Homo sapiens: one gene and its partner. Each later gene encodes a partner of the first gene's protein in a complex. Links are inferred from orthologs where the notes say so. Each region holds a gene or a part of one and is shown on either strand. Other genes may lie near its edges.

What was found.
Region 2: the proteins of SH3BP1 (region 1) and ABL1 are in contact, whole or in part, in a crystal structure (PDB 1ABO), measured with the Mus musculus proteins. The link is inferred for Homo sapiens from one-to-one orthologs. Residues at the interface, in NP_001303613.1 of Mus musculus: Ala607, Pro608, Thr609, Met610, Pro611, Pro612, Pro613, Leu614, Pro615, Pro616; in NP_033724.2 of Mus musculus: Tyr70, Phe72, Ser75, Gly76, Asp77, Thr79, Asn94, Glu98, Trp99, Trp110, Pro112, Asn114, Tyr115.

Annotation. Positions count from the first base shown.
Region 1 is NC_000022.11:37,633,069-37,642,706, forward strand, and holds the start of SH3BP1 (SH3 domain-binding protein 1), read left to right. Parts: upstream 1-6,600; 5' UTR 6,601-6,719; coding exon 6,720-6,778; intron 6,779-8,057; coding exon 8,058-8,100; intron 8,101-8,305; coding exon 8,306-8,410; intron 8,411-8,763; exon of another isoform or gene 8,764-9,470; coding exon 9,471-9,547; exon of another isoform or gene 9,548-9,638. UniProt on the Homo sapiens protein: GTPase activating protein (GAP) which specifically converts GTP-bound Rho-type GTPases including RAC1 and CDC42 in their inactive GDP-bound form.
Region 2 is NC_000009.12:130,826,067-130,842,366, reverse strand, and holds the start of ABL1 (tyrosine-protein kinase ABL1), read right to left. Parts: upstream 7,114-16,300; 5' UTR 6,921-7,113; coding exon 6,842-6,920; intron 1-6,841. UniProt on the Homo sapiens protein: Non-receptor tyrosine-protein kinase that plays a role in many key processes linked to cell growth and survival such as cytoskeleton remodeling in response to extracellular stimuli, cell motility and adhesion, receptor endocytosis, autophagy, DNA damage response and apoptosis.

The DNA of each region.
Region 1 (9,638 bases):
GGGGTCTTCCCCACCTGTCTCTTATGCCTTATGGGAAGGCCCAGCCATAACTCGGGGGCCATGCTGGAGCTGGGGACCAGCTTAGGCCTCCTCCATAGGAACCCAGTGACTGGGGGGTGACGCCTACACCCCCAGCTATTTGCACTCTGGTGTGTGGTTTGACTCTGCTTTTCTTCCGGATTGGCCCTGTGGTCACAGCCTCAGGGGGCCAGGCTGGGGGAACCTCACCTGGCCCGTACTCCTGGGGGTTTCCCTTTGCCATTGGGCCCCCTGAGGGACTGTGGGGGCTCAAGGGTAATGCCAGAGGCCCATGGCCCCAGCGAGGGGCTGTGGGGCACCTAGAGTTCTCGGTGTGTCTCCTTCATTCATTGGCCTCTGCTGGGGCCTCCTATGGGTGTCTTACGTCTGTCCATCCATCTGTCCGTGGTCAGAAGTGGGGTCAGTGTGTGAGTGAGAGCAGGAGTATTTATGAAAATAAAACGTCGTTTTTCCTGGACCAGCTGCTCTCGTGGCCCTTTGGAGGTTGAGGGAGATGGGAGGGGTTGAGTCCATGTTCCCTAGGGCTGCCCTGTAGACCTCTCCACTTCCGTCTTTGGAGGTCAGGCCGTGGGCCCCCTCCCCACCACCCCCCGGGCCCTGCACCGGAAAAGGCCCTGCAAAGGGGCCTGTGGCCAGTGCTGAGTCACCAGAGAGGGCGCTGGGCTGTGGCGGACCAGGACCGTCCCAGCTGGAAGTGGGCGACCGCCAGGGCCTGGCAGGAGCCCCAGCTGCTACAGACACCGAGGGGGAGGCCCCTGGCTGCTCACGACTTCCTCCTGCTGTGCTCAGCCCTCCACACAACCTCGATGCTGCAGCACCCCAGAGGGAAGTCCAAGCCCAGCTTCTCCCTCCCCCCAGACATCACTCCCTTGCCCAGCACCAATCGCAGTTTGTTTGGGAGCAGACCCAGGGACCCTGAGCTGGGCCCCTGCCACTCGCAGCGGCAGCTCTCCCCCACACAGTGCTATCAGTTTTCTCCAACCAGGAGGCTGGGGTCCAAGCTTGGGCGTGGCTTCGAGGCCACACAGCTGGGAGCGAGGGGGCGCTGGTCCAGGCAGATGGGCCCTGTTGTGTGGGAGGCCAGCCCTGCGTGTGGCTCTGCAGGAAAGTGTTCCCTGCTCAGATGAGTCCAGGGAGGCTGCGCACGGTTTCTCCTGAGTAGATGAGCCCATACAGACCCTGGGAAGTCCCTCATTTAAGAAGCCATTTTCACTTTGTCTAATCTAGTGTTTCCCAATCTGAACTTGGCCGCTGAACCCTTCTCCTTAGATATAGTTGTGACATGCTGGAGAATTGCCCAGCACACCCGCATCCCAGCGTGTGTGCTCTTTAACACTCATCAGCAAGCAAGGGGCCCCTCTCTGCTGGGCCCACACTGAAAGCGCAGGCTGAGAGCTCCTCCATGTCCGCCTTACTGCTGAGGGGACAAGAGGCATTAGCTGCACCCTGCGGGAGCCTCCTATCAGATCCCTACAGTGGGACTCCCACCCTGGCACAGCCCTCCAGACAGAGGCTGGCCCCTGGAGGCTTCCAGACACCCTGTCCCAGCCACGTGGCCTCGTTCCTGTTCCCCTTCCCTACCCTGCAGGACTCGCCTCCACACTTGTGATGTCTCCTGAAGATAACTCCGGTTGGAAGTTTCTTCTACCTGAAATGAAACCATAACCCCTGCAGCATCCACTTGGGGTGCCAGAGTCCCACCTCCAGCACAGTCTTCATTACTGGCCATGGCAGGGAGGAGTACAGGTTGGCATGGGGAACAGGTGGGACTGTGAGCTGGGAGTCTGGGGGCTGGTTCTGGCTGGGTCACTGGCTTGCTGTGTGATTTTGAGGAAGATGCTTTCCTTTCTGGAAAAGGGGAGAGGGACTCAATGAGCTATAAGGTCCCTCTGAGGAGTCCTTGGACAAAGGAGCCAGGCTGTCAGCTTTGGAGTGACCCAGGATATTCCGGGGACGGGAAGGTGGGGTCCCTTCAGCCTTTGGACCTTGTCCCTTGCCTTGTCCTTAACCCACCCATCCTGTCAGTCATGCCAGTGTTTCCTGAGCAGCCCCTGGGCCAGCCCCTGTCCTAAGAGTTCACAAGCTGGCAAGGACTTGGGAGCCAGTGTGGCACCCTGAGAGCAAAGACATAAGGTACCACAGAAGCCCTGCATCTGTCTGAGAGTCTGGGGTGGGTTCTAACCAGAGGAAAGGACCCTGGGCCTCCACTCCCTGGAGGAGTCCTTCCCCAAATACCGTGTTGCTGCACAGAGGTCCGGGCCACTGCGCTCTGCAGTCTCAGGGGCTGGGATGCAGTGCACTGGGGAGGCGTGTGCTCTGTCTCTTGAAGGGTGACCCCCAGTGCCATGCCAAGACCAGTGGGACTTCCCAGATCTCGAAGCCCCACTTCCATTTCTGTTGATTTGGCCGAGGCACCAGTTAATTTTGGTTTTCAGCAACCGCATCACACTGTTCGTCTGTTTATGGCAGCCAGGAGAAGTGGCAAGGGCCTGGGAGCCTGCTCCTGCCTAGTCGGTTTTTTGTTGTTGTTGTTTTTACGGAGTTTCGCTCTTGTTGCCCAGGCTGGAGTGCAATGGCACGATCTCGGCTCACCGCAACCTCTGCCTCCCGAGTTCAAGCGATTCTCCTGCCTCGGCCTCCCGAGTAGCTGGGATTACAGGCCTGCGCCACCACATCCTGCTAAGTTTGTATTTTTAGTAGAGACGGGGTTTCTCCATGTTGGTCAGGCTAACTCCCACCTAAGGTGATCCACCTGCCTTGGCCTCCCAAAGTGCTGAGATTACAGGCGTGAGCCACCACACCCGGCCCCCAGTCAGTTTTTTGGTTTTTTTGTTTGTTTGTTTGAGGTAAGGTCTCTCACCCAGGCTGGAGGGCAGTGTTGTAAACACAGCTCCCTGCAGCCCTGACCTCCTCGGCGCAGGCAATCCTACCCTCTTAGCCTCCTGAGCAGCTGGGACCACAGGCGCGTGCCACCATGCCCGGCTAATATTTTTATTTTTTGTATAGAGTTTCGCCAGGTTGCCCAGGCTGGTCTGGAACTCCTGAGCTCAAGCGATCCACCTGCCTCAGCCTCCCAAAGTGTTGTGGTGAGCTACTGTGCCTGGTCTGCCTGGTCTCTCGACATACCCCCTCCCCCAGTCTCTCTGGGCCTTGCAACCAGGGCACCAGCCCAGCAAGGCAGGCAAGAGGAGCCCCCGGACCTGATGCCTATAGCCTCCCATCTTAAGCCTCTGAAATGCCCTGTGAAATGGGAAGTGAGGCTCAGAGAAGTCACACATTATGGGCTGAGTCTGGGCCAGCAGTCTTGAGGTGTCTACCAGGATGGCACATTGCCCCATACCTCCCAAGTCCTCCCCCCAGCCTCTGTCGGGCTGTCCTCTGGGGCTGGGCTCAGGGTACACACTCCTCCAGGGCTATCAGGATTAAAATGGAGTTCTCAGCCTTAGGGCCACCCCAGGATTTCCTGGAAAGTCCTTTGGGCTTGGGGAGGGAGGTGAGGGAGTTTTTAGAGCCCCAGAGATCTCACTATGCCCCTAGCTGCTCTGGGTGGAAGTCCACACAGAGGGCAGCACCGAGGGATACTACAAACAGGCAATTTGTCAAAGTGTCTAAAATGGGATGTTTCTGCTCCTGCAGCCCCTGCTTCCGACCCCCGTTACCACCACCACTCAGCTGCTGACCTCCCTGCCCACATCCTGCTCAAGCCTTACTAGCACATGCTACCCAGACTGTCCCAGGCTTTCACAGACAAATCTGCACAGAGGCTGCCAGGCCCTCAAAGCAACCACAGGGGTTAAGGCAGAGCCAAGGGCCAGCATTTCTGGAGCTCCCAGGCAAGGCTGTCTGGGTCTGGCACAGCAGGAGAGCCCACGTGGGCTTAGGAGACTGTCAGATCTGTTTCCTAACTTGGCCTCTACCACTTTTCCAGCTGGGGACCTTAGGCCAGGGGCCTTGGGCTATTCACCTGTAAAATGGGGACAGTGATACCACCCTCACTGGAGGATATGCTATAGCACAACAAAAAGTCCCATTGTCCTAAGGCAGCTAGACACACACAGGGGTCGTTGGGGCAGGAATGGGGGTAAGGGGTCTTTCCATTCCTGACTTGGCAAGCTGAATAATGATGGTAACAAGAAACAACGCAAGGCACTTTATAAGCATCTTGCATCTATTAATTCACCTAACGCTTCTGTGAGGTAGGTACTATTATTTCCAATTTACTGAGGAGGATGCTGAGGTTCAGAGACGTGAAGTGTCCCACTTAAGGTTACCCAGCTAATGACAGCCACAGCCTGGCCAGCTAGCCTCCTCCACACCCTTAAGCTCTCTCTGTTCCTGCTGCCTGAGCCACTGTGACAGGCACACTGCCGGGTCCCAGAGGCTTTAGCAGGAGCCAGCTAAGACCAGCCTGGTAGAGAATGACCCAAGCCAACAGGCCCCTGGATTGGGGAAGGGCCCCACGAGGGGTTGGCTGGGGAGCTCTGAGGTACCCCTTCTGTGTCTGCAGTTTAGAAAGGCCATGATCCCAACACCCACTGATCAAAACTTCTGAGTCCGTAAGTCTCTGATTACAATTCCTTCTAAGGAACAGCCTATAACCCTAACCCAACCTTTGGGGAGTCCATCCTTCTATGATTCAACATCCAGGTGTGACAAGGGAGGGCCTAAAATCTACCCATCACCCAGCTAGGAGGCACAGCAGCCCCACCCGAATCCGACTCAAAGGCCCAGGGTGTCTCTCCTGCCCAGGACCCTTAGGTCTGGCTGGAGGGGAGTCTGGAGACCAGGGCAGGAGCGCGGGGCAAGAGCTCAGTTAGACTGATAATATGGCTCAGGTAGTTTCCACCACAGCTGCGGCTACAACCCACGTGTACTGACCCCTCACCAGGCCGGAGCTGGGGCTCAGGACTGGGCAAATCTAGGAGAGACAGAGGTGTAAGCCAAACCTTGCCTTCAAGGACTTTCAGACCAGCTACAGAACCAGACAAGCCCAGGCCCGGTGTGGTCTGGGCTGGAGGCTTGGCTGGAACAGAGCAGGGGCACCACATAGTCCAGAGACTTCCCGAGGGACAGGAAGGATGGCACCTGAGGTTCCCTTGCCATGCCACCCATAGTCACTGGCCAGCAGCCTTCCTGTTGGGAAAAGGGAGATGGGGGAGGGAACCTTGCCTGACATCTCATCCTGGCCTGAGCTTTGATCTTGGAGCCTCCCAACTTCCCACCAGGATTCCACACTCAGGTGGGCTCCCATCTGGGAGGCTCTGGCCATAGCAGGCAGCTGTTGGGTTCCCTTCTCAGCTCCTCCCACCCCCAATGAGTCCTGCCTCATTAGGGAGGAGAGAAGCAGCCAGTGAGTGTGCCAGGCCCTGGGCTAGGTGCTGGGAGTATGGAGATGTGTGGGGCCAAGGTCCTGCCTCTGAGAGGCGCCCAGTCTGCACCGGCACACAGTCTGCACCGGCACACAGTAGTGGCTCAAATAGTCTCAAACTAAACTGAAACTAACAAAGCAAAGTGCAGAGGGTGTGGCAGGACTCTGGGGCACACCCTCCCCTCTTCCCCACGCCTGCGGCTCCTGATGCCACAGGGGTGCAGGGTAAGGAGAGCCTACTGTTTCCTAAAGGCGCTCACATCTTGTAAAACCAGCAGTTATGGAGCACTTACTGTATGCCTAACTCTGTGTTGAGTGGAGGGCCAAAGAGGAGAACTACTGAGTTTGGGGGCAGTCAGAGCAGCACCTACATCATTGCCCTACAAGAAGGAAGGGGGACTGAGGCTGTTTGCCAGGAGGAATGAGAGGAGACGGGCTTCACAGATGGAGCAAACTGCCAGGAGATGTGGAGAACAGGGTGTCGCGAACCGCTCTGGGAGGGTTCCTGGTGGCTGAGGGGTGGCACGCACCTCCCTTAAAGGGAGCTGGCAGGGGTGTCTTGTCCACTCTGCAGAATGGGCAGGCCCAGGACAGCTGGCCCATCAGACCATTAGAAACAGCGAGTCCGGAGTTCCAGGGGCTTGTCCACGGCCACACAGCAGCCCGTGGCCCCAGGAAGCCAAAGCTCCCAGCCAGTCATCCAGTGGTGGGGGGTTTAGTTCCAGGGGGCCAGAGGTCCTCTGCGGAAGAGAGTGCAAGGCAGTATCCGCGGCAGGCCCAGAGAGGCCAGGACAGGTCAGAAAGGCCTACCCCTCTTTCGCTTGGTACCCTTTCCTCTTTGCGAGGGATGCAAAGGTTATTTATACTTCGGGTCTGCAGGCTGCGGGTGGGGCAGGCACCCCGCCTGGGGCGGGTTGCGGGCGCAGGGGCAGGAATGGGCTTACCTGCTTCCCGCCACCGGGGCTGGGCGGGGCGCTGCGGGGAGGAGGAGCCGGGCACAACCTGTGGACGGCCGCGGCCGGCGGACACACAGCAGCGGGGGCCCGGCCGGGGGTCGCCCGGGGGCCCGGAAGCCGGGGAAGAGCGAGGAAACCAACTTGGAGAGAGGAGTGACCTGGGGGCCGGGGGCGGAGTCGTGAGCGGGGGAGGAGAGAGCCGGCCGCCAGCAAGAGCCGCGCGGCGGCCCAGGAAGCGAGAGCGCCGCCCACCCATCCGGGGCAAGAGCCGCGCCGCAGGAGAGGCAGGCTGGACCGGGGGCTCCCCGGGCCCGCGACCCCCGCCGTGACCCCGCAGCCCCCAGCTCGCCCCCAAGATGATGAAGAGGCAGCTGCACCGCATGCGGCAGCTGGCCCAGACGGGCAGCTTGGGACGGTGAGTGTCACCCGCTTCCAGCCCCACTCTTACCCCGGCAGGACTTGAGGGGTCGTAAAAGGGTCGGGGGAGACGGGGGTGGGGGAGGCTGGGGACAGCTGGGCAGCCACCCTCTGAGCGGCCAGACTCCTGCTCTCTCTTCCTCCTCTCTGAACGCCGCCCCCGTCTCTCGGGCAGAGCTGGAGGAGCAAGGGTGGCCTTTGGGGGAAGGGATGCCCCCCCTTACCGGATTGGAGGGGGCTTCAGGCGGGAGAATGCTCTCTGCCCTAGGACGCTGGGACTTCTCTGCCTCCACGAGTCTCTAAGTGGATGGTCCTCCTGACCTCACTTGTCCCCTCTGGACAATGGGACAGTTCACCACCTCTGCTTGCTGGGCCGGGGAGGGAGGAGGGTCGATTAGGGCCACAGACCTGGGGCGAGGGGAGGAGATGGGTCCTGGCCTGGTGGGAGGAGGGGCCTGCCCCTGGCCTGCAGCGTCCCTCCCCCTCCCCCTCCCCCCAGCCCAGGGGCCTCCTGCTTCTGTCTCGTTTCTGCTTTTCCTGGACTCAGGTGGAAATATCCCCAGGTCTCCCAGCTCCCACCCCCAGCCTCTGAGCCGGTGGCACGGAGGCCGGAAGTTTGGGGAGCCTCTCAGAGCCTGTCTTCTCTGCTCCTCTTCCCCCAGCCTCAGGAGTTCCCCATTCTCTGGGTCCAGGGAGGGGACTGGGTGTCCAGAGACCTGGTTCTAGTCTCACACTGGCACAGATGCCTACATAGCCTGGACAGTCAGACCACCTTGCAGTGGGCCTTGGCATCCCCCATGTGTCCCCAGGTGGGGGCCAAGGGCCTGTGCACCCCTGCCCACAGCTGTAGTCCAGAGTGCTGTGTGACTGTGCCTAGGAGTCTGAGCTCCTGCACTTCCCGTTCTTGGGGCCAGCTAATACTCCTCATCCCGGGGTGGGCTGAGGATTTGGGAGTGGGCAGAAAAGAGGCTTCTGTGTCCCAAAGCTGGGCCCCGGGTGGGTCTCTCAGCCTCCCCTTTAGTTTCATCTGTCCGCCCTCTCTCAGGACACAGCCCTGGGTGGAGGAGGAAAAACCCATGTATCCTATTCCCACCCCCATGGAATGTGCTCCGACTGGGATGAAGCAACTGGGCCACCCAGGGCAGGCCTCAGCTGGGAGGGACAGTGGAAGCACTGGGGTCCAGGTGCCCTGCTGCGGGGAAGGGAAGTAGGGGGCGTTCTAACCCAGGCAGGCTCAGCAGAAGCACTCTCCCCCCCCCCCCCACCACTCCCCGCAGCACCCCGGAGACCGCTGAGTTCCTGGGTGAGGACCTGCTGCAGGTACGTGCCTGGGCCGGGCAGGTGGGAAGGCAGGCCTGTGCAGGCTGTCTCGGAGCAGAGGGCCGGGGCGGGGACGCCAGGTAGGGGCCTGGGTTGAGTCATTCCTCAAGCTGTTGGCCATGGGGTCCCCAGGGGACAGGAGAAAGTTTCCTGCTCAGGGGGAGACAGCCTCTCTTGATCCTTAACCTCCATACCTCCTTCCCAGGTAGAACAGCGGCTGGAGCCGGCCAAGCGGGCAGCCCACAACATCCACAAGCGGCTGCAGGCCTGTCTGCAGGGCCAGAGCGGGGCAGACATGGACAAGCGGGTGGTGAGTGGGGGGTCCCGGGAAGGAGGGGCCTGAGCAGGAGACTTCCATCCAATGGGGAAGCAAGGTCGGGGCTGGGGTTTCCTTGCCAGTCTGAGTGTCTGGCACCAAGGGCATGGAGACTGCTCTGTTCCAAGGCCCCTCTGGCACTGCACTCAAGAGGCCCTATACCTTCCCCATCACCTTTACCCCACTTCCCTGTGCACCAGTTCCCATAAGCCAAGGCCAGGCTTCTGACAGCACCTGAACTTCTCTGTCCAATCAGTGCGCAAGAGCAGGCTGTCAATGGGGCGGCCTCAGAGGGTTTCCTGAAGGAGGTAGCAATTGAGCTGGCTTTTGAGGGATACACGTTTATTAATCAAGAGGCAGCGTTTATTGGCTGATAACCGCCAGCTTGTTACTAACATATGAGTGCACTGTCTCATGGAACACTGGCACAACCCTAGGGGCAGGCATTGCTTTACACATGAGGAACTGGAGGCTCAGAGATAAAGTCACTTGTCCAAGGTCACATAGCTAGTAAGTGGCAGAACTGAGGTTTGAACCCTGGTCTCTGATCCCAGAGCAGGCATTCCCCGTAACTCCAGATGGGGTGGGAGTGTGGGGCCATGTTTTGGAATCAGTTGACAATTCAGTGTGGCCAAGGCAAGGAAATTGGGAGCCATAGAGCGTTTGAACTCAGCGGTGGCTAGGTCAGCCATATATACCCTGGGACAGGGGAAAGAGCTCCCGCTCCCATTCTCCCTCCACCTGTGTGACCTGGGGCAAGCTCCCTGCCCTCCCTGCATCTTAGTTTCCCAGTCTGCAGTAGGACTTGGTCATTCCTTCCTGCCCAGTCAAGTGGCTTCTGGGAAGAGGAAAGGGCACGCCAGATGGAGAGGGGCTCCATCCATGCTCTCAGGGAAATGTCACCCCCACCACGCCTTGTCATCTTGTTTCCACTCTCATCTGGGACTGTGGCCCTCCTGGGTTCCCTCCTCCCCTGCCCCAAGGGGCTGGCCTGGTGCTCAGGCAGGGTGGAGGGAGGCACGGACACTCATCGCCGGCCCCACCCTCCCTGCAGAAGAAGCTTCCCCTCATGGCTCTGTCCACCACGATGGCTGAGAGCTTCAAGGAGCTGGACCCTGATTCCAGCATGGGGTGAGCACAGACGGGGCCCAGCCCTCACCTGGGGATACCAAGACGTGATCTCAGCTGGGAGGGGGTCCAGGTGGTGAGGGCATCCACATCA
Region 2 (16,300 bases), on another chromosome or scaffold:
TAATGTGATAGAATAATAGCTAATACTTACTGATCCCGTATCAAGTGCCAGCACTTCATCTGCACTGAATCCCTATAACCTTATTACGTAGACTCTATTATGAAGGCATTTGAGGGCAGGAAATGGAAACAGAGAGATGTGAAGTTACTGATGGCCTCTCTCTCCAGCTACCCATCCATACATCAGCTGCCTGTCCATCATCTGTCTCCTGCGCTTCTCTTGCTCTCACTCATTCTCTCTCTGTACCCACCCACCCCAGCCCCACTGGCCATCCTATTCCTCTTTGTCTCCCTTCTCTCAGTCTTCCTTCCCTCCCAGCTTGTTTTTTTTTCCCTTTCCTGTCTCAACCTTTTTGTATTTGTCTCTCAGTCTCTGTCTCTATAGATTTCCCCCTTATGTCTCCCCTTCCTCCCTCCCTCTCTCTCTCTCTATCTCCTTCCCACCTATTTCTCTCTGTCTTCCCTATCACCAGTACTCAACACACGCAATATAACAAAAATATTTATGGTGTAACATGGTAAAGAAAGAAGGATTTGAAAACCAACTTTTTTTTTTGAGCTGGAGTTTTTGCTCGTTGCCCAGGCTGGAGTACAATGGTGAGATCGCGGCTCACTGCAACCTCTGCCTCCCAGGTTCAAGTAATTCTCCTGCCTTAGCCTCCTGAGTAGCTGGGATTACAGGCACTCCCCACTACGCCTGGCTAATTTTTTATATTTTTAGTAGAGACAGGGTTTCAGCATGTTGGCCAGGCTGGTCTCGAACTCCTGACCTCAGGTGACCACCTGCCTCGGCCTCCCAAAGTGCTGGGATTACAGGCGTCAGCCACCGCGCCCGGCCTGAAAACCAATTTCTAGAGCAAGCTTGTTCAACCCATGGCCCACGGGCTGCATATGGCCCAGGACGGCTTTGAATGTGGCCTAACAAATTTGCAAACTTTCTTAAAAACATTATAAGATTTTTGGCCCGGTGCAGTGGCTCACGCCTGTAATCCCAGGGCTTTGGGAGGCCGAGGTGGGCGGATCACGAGGTCAGGAGATGGAGACCATCCTGGCTAACATGGTGAAACCCCCGGGCGCCTGTAGTACCCTCTACTAGGGAGGCTGAGGCAGGAGAATGGCGTGAACCCAGGAGGCGGAGCTTGCAGTGAGCTGAGATCGTGCAACTGCACTCCAGTCTGGGCGACAGAGTGAGACTCTTGTCTCAAAAAAAAAAAGAAATGAGATTTTTGTGGGATTTGTTTTGTTGGTTTAGCTCATCAGCTATCGTTAGTATGTTTTACGTGTGGCCCAAGACAATTTTTCTCCCAATGTGGCCCAGGGAAGCCAAGATTGGACACCCCTGTTCCAGAGTAACGATTCTACCCATCTGAGGACAAAGTTACACTATCAAAACTAAGTAATTATAATTAGCAAGCTATTCTTCCTAATGGCTTTGAAACTGTAACTTTATTATGTAAGAAAACAAGACTGACTATAAGCTGATAATTGTTAAAGCCACATCATAAGTACATGGGAGTTCATTATGCTGTCTACTTTTGAGACAGTTTTAGGCTGGGTGCAGTGGCTCATGCCTGTAATCCCAGCACTTTGGGAGGCTGAGGTGGGAGGATTGCTTGAGCCCAGGAGTTTGAGACCAGCCTGGGCGACATAGTGAGACCCATCTCTATTTTTTTTAATTAAAAAAGAGATAGTTTTAAAAATTGACACTAAAAAAGAACAAACAAACCTATGAATTTATTTTATAAATTGTTCTTCTGTGTGTTTAATTAAGATCCACCATTATGGAGGAAAAGTTAAAGTCTTCCAATATCCCATTTGATCTTTAGTTCTTATGTATTTAAGAAAGCTACCCATTGATTTATTTTCTGCTTTTATTTCAGATCAATGATTATACTGGCACAATTACAATGACTTGATTTTACAAGGTGGTAAGTGGCACCAGATTTTCAGTTTTCACGTTTGAGGCTGTGGAAATATTGTCTCTGGACAGGAGAAATAAAATGCCAACCATGAGCCAATGGGAATTTCTCTTCCACAATGAAAATATTCACTACGGGAATAACAGAGGGTGCGAGGAAGAGAAGACATTTTTCAGCCAAAAATCAAGGACAGGAAGTATTAATTATACGCATCAAAACACACTTAGAAACAAACTGCTTTATTAGCAAGAAAAACTATGGGTGGGATTGGCTGAATTCTGTCATCACTTCAACCATTACAGAAACTGGTAAAGCCACCATTTTAGGCTGCTAAATATTTGCTTAAAGTAACAACAGCTTACTTTTCTGCTAGGCTCTTGTTCTGTGCCAGGCTCCCTGCTAAACAATTTACATGAAGTCTCTCAACAACTCAGTGAGGTAGGGATTACTACAGGCCTTATTTTAGAAATGGGAACACCAAGGTACAGTGAGCCTCGGTGAATGCGCAAGACCAGCCAAGAGCACAGGTGGCATTTGGGTCCAGACTGGCTGGCTCGGGAGCTGCCTGCCTGTGCAGAAGAATGAGACCCTAGGAACGCTGTGTGAGCCATAAACCTGCCTGGACTAAAGAGCATCTCAGAGGAATCTCGTATCAACATAACACAAACATACATTTAACTCTTACCAGTTTCAGAGCTTTCCCTCAATCATCTTATAGACCCTCAAAACAATCCTCTAAGGTGGCTGAACAGAGATTGGTCTCTCTGTCTTAGAGGTAAAAACACGGAAGCTCAGAGAGGTCAGAGGAAAACTGGGATCTCCTGCCTCCAAATTGAAAAGTACTGCCACCTAAACTGGGGCCCTTCCTCTTTTCTAGAAACCTCAGGGCACTGGTGTGAAAATTAAGTGAGGCTGCACATGATGTGCTCAGTGCCAGGGCCTGTGACATTGTAAATGGTCAACAATGTTAATAGCACCCAAAATGAAATGGACAGACTGGCCTTTTATTAGGTAACAGAAAGAGTCTCACTTTCTTTGTTACTGAACAAGGGAAGTATCTGATGACCTCAGGAGAGAGCAGAAAGCAAGCATAAGCTTCTCCAAAGCTCAAGTTCTAAAAGCGTATCTGTATGGCTGGCACCACATGAAGCATCCGCTGGAAAGTTAGCTGCTGAAAAGAAGCATTTAAAAGTGGGCCCTTAAAATAAATTTCGAAAGTTCAGGCTGAGTGCAGTGGCTCATGCCTGTAGGGATGCACTTTGGGGAGGCCAAGGTGGGAGGATCACTTGAGGCCAGTAGTTCAACACTGGCTTGGCCCGGGCAAACTAGTAAAAATAGTGAGACCCTGTCTCTACAAAAAAAAAAAAAAAATTTTAATTAGTCAGGTAGCATATGCCTGCAGCCCCAGCTACTTGGGAGGCTGAGGTGGGAGGGTTGCTTGAGACCAGGAGCTCAAGGCTGCAGTGAGCTGTGATTGTGCCACTGCAGTCCAGCCTGGGTGACAGAGCAAGACCCTATCTCCAAAAGCAACAATAACAACAACAACAAAAAGTTCAAGAAGAGTTCAGTTCACAGACATTAGTTTTTGATTCTACAGTACACAACTGTCACATACATGTACAATATTCAGGCACAATGTATGTAAATACAAACACATGAACAAATGAAAATAAAATGAAAAGAAAACCCTGAATTCAAAAGGCTAGTGTTCATGTTTTCTTTGACGTCTCCAGGGGAAAGAAATAATCAGAAAATTCAGTGTTCAAAGTAGACCGAATATTGCAAAGCTAAATGCGGTCCTGGTGAATAGATACTGCTATAAACATGCATATTCACAAAAAGCTGGAGAGCAAAATTCACATGTTATAATAAATGCTTATATGTGCACACAGTATTTCTAGAAGGACACACATAAAACTCCAGGGTGATTGCCTCTAGGTGGGGAAAATGAATAGGAGAGGGAATTACTTTTCACTAAATACCCTTTTAGGATTTCTTACATACAAGTATTTTTATATACATTTAAAAAAAATTAATCCTACTGTTAAAGCTAATCATTTTGCCAGGATCAGGTTTCTAGAAAAGAAAAAGAGACTACCCTTACATTTCAGGGATTAATTGGAGGAGTTTCTGGAGATACCATTTTGAAAATCACAGTGAATTCCAAAAGAGACATCAGTAGAGCATCCAGTGGCTAAAAGTGGGCTCTCCCAAGCCAGATAGCATGAGTTCAAATTCCAGTACCCCCACTCACTGGCTCTGTGACCCTAGACAAGTTACCTAACCTTTTGGTGACTCAGTTTCCTCATCTATAAAATGGAAATAATCATAGTGCTATCATGAAATATAACTATATCAGATCACATAGAGTAATAAAACAGTATTTGGCACATAGTAAGCATTTAATAATTGCTAGCCATCTTTATGTTTACCAGTGTTGCTTTGACAGCTAGGCTGAGTAGCAGGTAGCATGCACCATCAAACCACATTTATGGTGGAAGCTTCTTTGATAGAACAATGAAAAACTTGATCTCATTCAATTCTCTCCCTGACAGGGAATGCCTGGGACCCTGAGTGGGCGTCAATAAACACTGACTGACTGATCGACACTGATTGACTGATTTAGGCTGTCAGTGAAAGTGGAAAGCCTGGATTACTCATCCAGATGTTAGGAACTATTTTTCCCAAAAGACAAATAGCACTTCCAGTCTTTAAAAGACTATCGCTGAGGCTTGTTAAAGTCTACCAACTACAAAATGATAATTCCATTTACTTTCTCTAATTAACTATAACAACGAAAAGAAGAAAACTCAGTAAGAAAGAATTCCTAGAGTGACACCTTCCTAGAAGAAGGTTTAACCCAAGGCAGTCTGCTGTACTAGAACTTTTTTTTTTTTTTGAGACTTTAGAGTCAACATTATAATTCATTTCAAGACATGTTGGAATGAGTTTTAGATTTTTTTCCCAAAACAATAATTAAACCAGCCAGGTCCATACTAAATCTCCGGTTTACTCCCAGGAAAACAAAACAATGACTTGGCAAAGCTGTGACCTAAACTTTGCTCCAGCTCTGCACTTACAAAAGTCCATTCATCCCCGCCTTAGGCACCCATCTGCAAAGTGGAGATGATGATGCCTAACACTAACTCGATACAGATGTAAATGAGAATGTGCTCAGAATTTTGAGCAACTTGGAAAAAATAAGCGATGTATTAATTGAAGATGATTTGGAATGCTCAGACATCAACTTTTAGGGACAAATAAACAATCTCCACCCTCCAAATGCTAGGCTCTGTGAGCCCACTCCACCTAGATGAGCCTTCTCTGGGCCATTCAGCCCCCTGGAATCCCAGAGACAGAAGAGGAGTGAGGTACACAAACTGTGGCAAGAAGGGCAAACAGGTTTCACCCACATCACTAGTGCGATCTGCATATGTGACTCCAAGCAGGCCTTCAGGGTAGAGTCAGAGGTTAAGGAAAGAAAAATAGGTTAGAAAATAAATGAGGCCTGTTTATTTCTCCTGCTTTTTTAAAAAGAAAAACATGGCATTCTAGCAGAAATCCTACTTGATCTAAAGTGAGCTTCACATTTCTTTCTACTCTTTTTTTTTTTTTTTTTTTTTTGAGACCGAGTCTTGCTGTGTCGCCCAGGCTGGAGTGCAGTGGCGCGATCTTGGCTCACTGCAACCTCCCCCTGCCGGGTTCAAGCAATTCTCCTGCCTCAGCCTCCCGAGTAGCTGGGATTACAGGCGTGTACCACCACGCCCGGCTAATTTTTTGTATTTTTAGTAGAAATAGGGTTTCACCATGTTGGCCAGGCTGGTCTCGAAATCCTGACCTCAAATAATCCACCCGTCTCGGCCTCCCAAAGTGTTGGGATTACAGGCTTGAGCCACCGCGCCCGGCCACATTTTTACTCTTATATTCTTAGTTGAAAACAACAGAGAAGTCCAAGTGCCACTCCATCTCTGAAGCACAGATAGCCTTTCTGCTGAAGGCAATGGTCTGGGAGCACCAGTCTCAAATCAGATCAATTTCATACCCACCTAGAAGCTACGAAAGTGAAGACCCATAACCCTTAATTTACTTTTTTTCCATTTATAAAACTAAAGACTACAACAGGAAAGAAAAATAAAATAAAACAGATGTAATTAGAGAAGGAGAGTAGGTAGAAAGAACGCAAAAGTGAAGCCCTCCTGGCCCTGAGCTTCACTTAAGGAAACGAACATGACACCCCAGTACTCTGGGGGACTCCTTGGAAACGCCTTCTTAAATGGGCTCCCCTCCCCTGAAAAGAGAGCGAATTCCTAAGACCTCTTCGTGGTCTGTAGATAAGATGGGGGTGGGGGAGATGGAAAGATCACTTGAAATTCTGTATCCATAAATGGTAGAGTGGTGCTCCTTGTGTACATGATGCTTAATGGAAATCGCATGTTTTCACAAACACGGGTCGATCTTTTTAACACACAGTCCCAATTAACGGTGGAAATTCCACAACGTGGGATCCCAGGGATGTTAAGGCCTGGCGAGTTGGCTTTCTCAAACTTTTTCGGGGGAGCCCGCACTGTGGGGCCCCGGACGCCGCCGTCACCATCCGGCGTGGCTCTACCGGGGCTGGTGCCGGGGCTGGGGGCCACGCTCCGCCGGCGGCGCCTAGGGGCCATCGCGAGAAAGAGAAAGAGACAGAGAGAGAGAAAAAGAGAGAGACAAGAGAAGAGAAAAGAGACAGACACAGAGAGAAAGAAAGAGAGACAGAATATAAGAGAACTGAAGAGAAGAGAAGAGAAGAGGGAAGAAAGAAAAAAAAGACAAGACCCGGGGAGGGCGCAGGCGGGAGCGCGCGGGCGGCGAGGCCTAGGAAGGGCCCAGCAGCAGCGGGAGGGCGCGCGGCTACTCAGCCCAACCCGTGCGGCCCGGGCTTACCTTCCAGATAACAGCTGGAGGACGAGGACAGCCCCTTCTTGGATTTGCAGCCCACCAGCTTCAGGCAGATCTCCAACATTTTCCCGCGCCAGCACGTCGGGGGCCGGAACCCCTCTCCCAGCTCGGTCCGCGGGCCCGGCTCAGGCCCGGCTCGGCCCGCGCGCCCCCCCGGCGCCCCCGGCCCCGCCAGCCGCCCTCACCGCCGCCCCGCGCGCCCGCGCCCGCCCATGGCCGCGGCCGCGTCTCCGCCTGGCCGGGACGCGCCTGTTAACAAAGGGCCCGGAGAGGGCGCCCGCCAGGCCCGCCCCCGCCCCGCCGCCGCCTGCGCCTTAACCCCCTCCTGGCCGCGCCCGTCCGCACCCAGGGGCCCCTGGCGTTCCCGAGGCCGAGCCCGGCCCAAAGCCACCGCCGCTTTCCAAAGCCAACCCGGGCCAATGGCGATCCTCGCAGGGGGAAGGCCGCGCGCGGCCCGCGGAGGTCTTTCTCCGCCTGGAAGCGCCGTCCCAGCCCCGGCGGGGAGGGTGCAGGCCTGCTCCACTCCACTTTAGAAGCCGCGCGCAACTCCACCGCGGCCTGGGGCGTCTCCAACCTGCACCGCTTTTGGCGAGTTTCCCAGTACGCGGTGCCAGGCAAACCCTCTGACCCGAGAACGCTGGTGAAAATGCATATTCCTCTGCAGTTACCAATACTAACTGGTCTCATTTCTACTCAACGCGCGTCCTGTGATTAAGGCTGAGGCAGTGGGTGTCTGGGGAGGAAGTCAGAGCTGGCACCCACAGGACAACCACACGTGCGCACGACACCCCGGTGAGGCCGCACATCCAGACCAGGATATGAGGTCAGGCTGCGAACAGACGGGTGTGAGTTCAGAGTGAGAGGACTTAGTCCCTACAATGAGAATTTTCGGAGGCACGGTCTGGGCCTCTTCTCTGATTCATTTTCTTTAACAGAGAACTTTTCCTCTTCCTTTGGCCGAGTGCCACGGGGTGAGGGTGGGGGGACCATTGTTTAAAATCCATTTCATTCAATTATTTTAAACTCTTGTTTGGACTGACCACAGACAATGTTATAAAGCAGCAACAATCACAGTCGTGTTACTGGCGCACACCCAGAAATCTAGGTCAGAGGGAAACAATAAGGAACTCAATGGCACCAAATAATTCAATAAAATCAGGTAAGTTCCCCTCATGACAGGAAAAGGAATTTATTTCATTTATTTCTTTCATAAATGGTGTTAATCACAAAACTGTAAAGGGGGAAGTTTAGTCCACATCTTCTAGCCATGAAGAGTAAGAGCTGACGTGTATTGTGCTCTTCCTATGTGCCATGTTACCTTCATTAACTGTATTGCATCTGCGTAATGATTCTGTGAGGAAACAGATTATCCCAATTCTTCAGGTTTAAAAACAAACAAACCCCACAGATGCTCAGAGAAGTCAGACACCTTGCCCACAGCTGGAAACAGGCGGAGATGGACTCAACCCAGGTCTGCCTGGCTCCAAGGATCAGGCTCCCGACCAGTGGATGATGCTGACCCTTCACATCAAGAATAAATTCCAAGTGGATTAAAGCATTGGATATCTTTGGTCAAATAACTAGCATTGTCATTATATGTTTCAGAGAAAGCCTTGGTTATGAGACCCTGGCTACTTTCTAGCCTATCCTGTAATGACAAAAACCCGGGTATCTTCAGTACCTCAGGAATGGCTAAGTAACAAGATCTTCACTTGGCTCTGCCAAAAACAGCACATAAAAACTCCAGTTGGACAGGATGTAACCAGTGTATATCACAGGGGTTCTCGGCCAGGATGTCATTAACTTTCCACATGTGTCCTGCCAAATTCTGATCAACATACAACATGTATTTTTACTGCCATTGAATGGACCTACTGCTAGAGTCGTGGTACCAGATCAGGCCTCATGAGCATCCAAGAGGGCACCATCAGGGAAGTTTGCAGCTCCCATCATCTGGAGATGCAGGACTACAGGGCCCCCAGGGGATGGGTGCAGTGACTCTGGATGCTTTCTAGGATCTGGGAAGCGCTGTCATTCTGCTGGACAGCCTGCGTGTGGTGACTGCTAACATGTTTAGTGTTGTCTTGAATCTGTCAACCTCTACACGTAATGCCAAAAATAACACTCAAAAGGGTGCCACCAGTACCAACTAGTGAAAAAATACAGTATCTGTCTGTTTTGTTGCCCTTTTGGAAAGTTCAGGGGCCTTGGATCAGACTATAATAAAGTCTGTCATTATATAGCATTTCATATTAAAGGGCCATATTCAAATTGGCGGCTTAATGCCAAGAATTACACATTATTAGGCATTTTGGAAATTCTAGCCATATCCTTGAATACCGTCTGTTAATATAGGCCCAGATATTTGCTTGCCTTGTGCTGTTCTTTATATTGGTATATGTTTATTTTTTTAAGCTAATTATTATTACTAATATTCTGCTCTTGAGTCTAAAATGATCTTATCCTCTTAAATCCTCTTAAAATGAATAATGCTTATAAACTGTACCCAAATCTTTTTAATTTTAGTTATAAAACCATACATCAACAGATCTAACAAAATACTGAATTAGTGGCAATGGATACTGAAAAAACTGCCAAACTACACTTCTGTATCAAACCTGGCCTATACTTTCCATATCCAGCTTTTGACGCTTTTGAAAGATACGAAGAGCATTCTGTTACAAGCAAATAAAGGAGAGCTTCAATCTTCTTACCAGAAGAACACCCCAAGAAGGATTCCTTCTAATCAGCCTAAGACCCAAAAGCTATTAGCTAAAAAGAAAGGGAAAAGGAAAGAAATTAAAGACTGTGAACTAACTTGTTTGCTATGTTGCATTAGTTTGGGAAGAAATACATTTTTAATGTGCATGTAATATGTGCCAGGCACTCTTAAGCCTCACAGTAACCTAATGATTTTGTATAGTTTAATTCCATTTCACAAGTAAGAAAACTGACTGGAGGGAGAGGGGGAAGTATTCTGTCCAAGTTCACACAGCCAGGAGGTAGGAAGGTAGGAAAGTCTTGAACTTTGTAAAATGGCAGAAAATTTCCAATTTAAGTGAAAGGTGGATAATATGAGTAAGATCAGAAGATGAAATAAGTAACATTAACTGTTGGGAAAACATGTCTTAGGAGAAAATAATTCAGGGAACTAGAGCTATTTAAGATTTTTTTTTTTTTTGAGATGGTGAAACCCCATCTCTACTAAAAGTACAAAAAAATTAGCTGGGCGTGGTAGCGGGCATCTGTAATCCCAGCTACTCGGGAGGCTGAGGCAGAGAATTGCTTGAACCTGGGAGGTGGAGGATGCAGTGAGCAGTGATCGCACCACCACACTCCAGCCTGGGCAACAGAGCGAGACTCCATCTCAAAAAAAAAAAAAATATTTAGAAGGAAAGGATAAACTCCCCAACATTAAAGCATGGGATCTGAACAATGTTTCTAAAAGCATAATCCATGGACAATCTATTTTGAATAATGTGGGGCTTGCTTAAAATGCGGAGTCTTGGTTTCTAGTCTAGAATCAGAATATGTGTAATGGGCTGGATCTGAAGCTCCCAGATGATCTGTATGCATATGTAAGATGGAAATCCACTGTTTGGGGGCCAGACACAGTAGCTCACGCCTGTAATCCCAGCACTTTGGGAGGCTAAGGTGGGCGATCACCTGAGGTCAGGAGTTAAAGACCAGCCTGGCCAACATGGGGAAATCCTGTCTCTACTAAAAATACAAAAATTAGCCAGGCATGGTGGTACACACCTGTAATCCCAGCTACTCGAGAGGCTGAGGCAGGAGAATCGCTTGAACCTGGGAGGTGGAGGTTGCAGTGTGCCAAGATTGCACCACTGCACTCCAGCCTGGGCAGCAGAGCAAGACTACATTTCAAAAAAAGAAAAAAAGAAAAGAAATCCACTGTTTTGGAAGAGGGAAGAGTTGCTTATTTTCACTGGGAATAGGACGAACAGGAATGGATATTTCTAAAATTTAATTCATTTGAAAGCAATTTCTGAATTTAAGATAGGCATAGTTCTAGAACAAGTTACCAAAAGAGGACTCTTCTTGGATGATTAGAGGAGAGAGACTGAATTTTTTTTTTAATTTGGAATTTAGTCCTATTAAGAAAAAGTTGGGCAGGCACCCACCATAGAAGTGTGTCAAGGGAAGGAGGCAGGATTCAGGATGTGGATGCTCCATCTCTCAGCAGCAAGACTGGGTGTGAGTGCAGGTGGAACAGAGACAGATGAACCTGACAGGAGGCCTGGCTTGGGACCCCAGGACAAGGTGACCCCAGGTCTGGCTGACCCCTTCACTGTTTCCAGCATAGCTAGTAGCTTTAGGGGGGGAACAGCAAAGATCTTGAGGTATGTGCACAGTATTTCACATGCAAATGCCAACAAAGCCCACTTTCTCTGATTCAGCAAACATTGTCCAGCAAGAGCCTGCCAGGTACTCTAGCTCTGTGGGTCCAGTGTATGTCCAACTAAAGGATAACATAGCTTAAAACATCACTTCTGTCATACCAGTTTTTGCCACTGTATAGGGACACATGCATCCCTTTAAGTCTCACATTTTTTCAATCGGGTAGCACTACCTGCTGGTCACGAGTTATGTGTCACAAAGGCTAGCGCTGAGTCTCAGATCTGCCACTCACTGTGGGGCCATGGGCAACGACTTCACCTCTCAGAGCCTCAATTTTCTCATCTGAAAAATGGGAGGTAGTCATAAGAGTAGTTATCTCACAGGGTTATTATGAAGATTAGGAATCATGTAGGGAGAGTGCCCAAAGCACAGAAGGTGCTCGATAAACAGTAGCTATTGTTATTTCCAAAAGAGGACTATTTCTGTATCAGGTCTGTGTTCCTGCCTACATCTCACTGGGACTCAGTCAAGAGCTCAAATTAACAAACATGCTATATGAAAATGATTCCAGAAAGCAGTCTGGAGGTTTTCCAAGGGACCAGGAAATCAATTTATTTTATGAAGAGAAAGAAACACTAGCTGTGAGGTAGGAGTAGCAACTAAGGTTCAAATGTAACAGAGAGCCCCACCTTTCATCCTAAAGCAAAGATTTGCAACCACAGCTTCAGCAAAACACAAACCCCACACCCCCGCATCTTGAATGGGGGCCTAATTCAGACCCATGATTTCATGCACAGGCTGCACAGATGACTGTCCTTCAAATGACACTGATTTTTCTGTTGGTATTTCCAGGCTATAATTCTCAGCTGGGGACCAAATCTGAACTGCCTTAGAGTAAATCCGCTTTCTAGAAAATCTCATTACAGTAAGACTACTATATTTTTATAATTAACAAGTCTAAACCTAACTGTTAAACATTTTTCTCTAGAAGGAGAAAATTAATGGTATTAGTATGCTCATTTTTTTAAATTAATTTTTCTTTTTAATCAAAGTAATATACATAACATGGTTAAAACTCAAGCAGTACTAAAAGTCTTGTAAAAAAGGCTAAAAATAGTCTTGTAAAAATCTGGTAATAAAAAACAGCAATCCCTTTCCCCTGTATGTTTCCGCAGAGACAGCCTCCTTCAGATTTTTAGCTAGTAACATCATCTTGCTCTTTCTGAATTCATTAGATTTATCCATTATCTATTAACTTATGACAGCAGTATTATACTATCACCATCCATAACCCCCCAAAACAATAAAATCACAATTTGGGGGATAAATCAATAGTTAGTGTTTACATTATTAGGATGATATAAATATTCTTCACTGCTTAGCCAATAATATACTATGAATGTTTCCTTTATTATACATCTTTGTTTATCCTAGAGATATTGCCTTGTTTTCATTTAGTCTTCTATATACCTATCACCATTTTCCCTCAAATACTTCAAAGATCTGTCAAACATCTAGTGATATTTTTTCCAATCACTAAAACATTTCAAATATTCTCAGTTGTACTTTTTTTTTTTTTTTTTTTTTGAGACGTAGTCTCGCTCTGTCACCCAGGCGGGAGTGCAGTGGCGCGATCTCCGCCCACTGCAAGCTCCGCCTCCCGGGTTCACCACGCCATTCTCCTGCCTCAGCCTCCCGAGTAGCTCGGACTACAGGGGACCGCCACCACGCCCTGCTAATTTTTTTGTATTTTTAGTAGAGACGGGGTTTCACTGTGTTACACCAGGATGGTCTCAATCTCCTGACCTCGTGATCTGCCCGCCTCGGCCTCCCAAAGTGCTGCGATTACAGGTGTGAGCCACCGTGCCCGGGCTCAGTTCTACTTATTGACTGACTTCTTCATTTTGCTGGAATTCATCATCCAGTAGCTTCACAGAGGTGGGGAGGGAGGGTGCATGTCTAAAAAAATACCTTTCTTCTATCTTGACAGTTTGTCTGGGTATAGAATTCTAGGTTGAAAATAATTTTCCCAAATGAACTTTGAAGGCATTTATTTATCTGCTACTATCTAGTTTCCAGTAAGTATTGTTTAGAGATGCAATCCCATTCTGGTTCCTGACCCCTTAAAATGACTTGCTTTTTTTCTCTTTGGAAACTTTTAGGATCTTCTAATATTCTTGGTGTTCTGAACTTTCACAATGATATGGCCTTTCATATATTATTCTGGGCACTCATAAATCCAGAGATTTATATAATTCTGTTTTGGAAAATACTCACTTCACTAAACTCTGAAATTTTTCCTTACATTTAACGTCTCCTAACTTCTCCTCCATTTGTTTCTTCGTTATTATCATTATTTTTTTGTTTTCTTTCTGGAATTCCTACAAAAAGGATATTAAAGCCCTGGGATTGAGTTTCTAATTTTCTTTTCTTTTTTTTTGAGACGCAGTTTCACTCTTGTTGCTTGCCCAGGCAGGAGTGCAATGGCACAGTCTCGGCTCACTACAACTTCTGCCTCCTGGGTTCAAGCGATTATCCTGTCTCAGCCTCCCGAGAGTTTCTAATTTTCTTACCTGTTCTCTCTTATTGTTCTCTCAACAGTCCATGTCTTTGTCTTTATGTTCTATTAGGTTGGTGTAAAAGTAATCAACGTTTTTGTCATTAAAATGGCAAAAGCCCCAATTACTTTTGTACCAACCCAATACATTCTGAGACAATTTTCCACATCTTCTGTTGGATTTTAAATTTGGGCTATAATGTTTTTAATATTAAACAATTCATTCTTGCTGGGTGTGGTGGCTCATGCCTATAATCCCAGCCCTTTGGGGGGAGGCTGAGGCAGGAGGATCACTTGAGCCCAGGAGTTCAAGACCAGCCTGGGCAACATAGTGAGACCCCATCTCTCTACAAAAAATTTAAAAATTAGCCAGGTGTGGTGGTGCGTGCCTGTAGTCCCAGTTGCTTGGGGGGCTGAGGCAGGTTGGGGCTGCAGTGAGCTGTGATCTTGCCACTGCACTCCAGCCTGGGTGACAGAGACCATGTATCAAAAATAAATAAATAAATAAATAAAAGAAAAATAATTCATTTTTATTCTTATTCTGATTGTTATTGTTTTTAAAAGCATCCTGTTTTCTGACATTTGCAATCTCTCTCTCCAAGGATAGCAAAGAATAGTTCTTTTTTTTTTAAGCAGTATTTGTGGGAAATGCATAGCTTTATTTATTTATTTATTTATTTATTTATTTATTTATTATTTTTGAGACAGAGTCTCACTCTGTCACCCAGGCTGGAATGCGGTGGTGCAATCTTGGCTCACTGCAAGCTATGCCTCCCAGGTTCAAGCAATTCTCCTGCCTCAGCCTCCCAATAGCTGGGATTACAGGTGCCTGCCACCATGTTCAGTTAATTTTTGTATTTTTAGTGGAGATGGGGTTTCACTATGTTGGCCAAGCTGGTCTCAAACTCCTGACCGCAGGTGAACTGTCCACCTCAGCCTCCCAAAGTGTTGGGATTACAGGCGTGAGTCATGGTGCCCAAGCTGAATAGTTCTTTTAAACTCTTCCTCTGTTGACTGCATTGTCTTTATTTCCACCAAGTTCCTGTTTTCTGCTATTTGTTTTACCCTTTATCTATTAATATCAGGTTAGAGACCTTCCTCTAATGCCTAGAGAGATTTGGCAGGCCACTCACTCTCTATGAATGAGCAACTAAAAGATGACTGTTAGTTTTGTATGCGTGGAAGGGGCACAGCCACTGGTAAGCTTCAGTGAAAGGAGATGGTAAACTCGCTTTTTCAAGAGAATCCCTAAATGTTGGTATCTGTAGGGCTTTTCTCTAGGGTCATTCAACTTTTTCCCCCTAGAAAAGAATATTTCAATCTCTTCCTTATTAGGCCCCTGGCTAGCAGGTATTAGAAGAGGGCTGGGAATCTTACTATTCAGTATGCAGACTTTTAAAAAATCTGCTCTTTGCCCACTCCACTATTTTCGGCCAATGGCCTACCCGGACCCATGCTGGGGGTCAGGCTCCTGAGTGCAGAGCCTCTACGGGGCATTTCTTTTCTTTTTTTTTTCTGAGGCGGAGTCTTGCTCTGTTGCCCAGGCTGGAGTGCAGTGGCGCCATCTCGGCTCACTGCAAGCTCCGCCTTCAGGGTTCACGCCATTCTCCTGCCTCAGCCTCCTGAGTAGCTGGGACTACAGGCGCCCGCCACCACGCCCGGCTAATTTTTTGTATTTTTAGTAGAGATGGTGTTTCACCACATTAGCCAGGATGGTCTCGATCTCCTGACCTTGTGATCCGCCCGCCTCGGCCTCCCAAAGTGCTGGGATTACAGGCGTGAGCCACCGCGCCCGGCCGGGCATTTCTCAATATAATGCCTCTGGTCTCCTGTAGGTGGTTAGGAGAGGTGGTCATCTGACTCTGTGGGGTTGGGAGGGGTTTGAAGAATCTAAACCCTCCTTTTATAGGCTCTCAATTGATCCCCTTGATTTCAGCTTCAGGCCTCATCCCCTGCTTTCTGTGGTACTAATGTCTCTAATTTCTGACCTTTCCGCAGATTCTTACAGGCAAACCAGCTCACTCTTAATCAAGGTCTCTCTCAGAAGAGGTTTTGGCATCCTTGATTCTGCTAAATCTATTACCACTCTCTTTGCCTTTCTTATCCCCTACTGTCTCCTTTGGGCTCCTTTAGTCCTTACACATCTTCACTTAAAATATGTATATATATATTTTGGCCAGGCGTGGTGGCTCATGCCTGTAATCCCAGCACTTTGGGAGGCCAAGGCAGGTAGATCGTTTGAGCTCAAGAGTTTGAGACCAGCCTGGCCAACATGGCGAAACCCCATCTCTACAAAATACACAAAAATTTGCTGGGCGTGGTGGTGTGTGCCTGTAATCCCAGCTACTCAGGAGGCTCAGACAGGAGAATCGCCTGAACCCAGGAGGTGGAGGTTGCAGTGAGCCGAAATTGCGCCGACTCTGTCTCAAAAAAAAAAAAGAAATCTTTTTATTGTCATTTTAAGAATTTATTTTCCCCATATTGCATTTCAGACAACTGTGACACAGATAGGTTATATAACTTGCCCT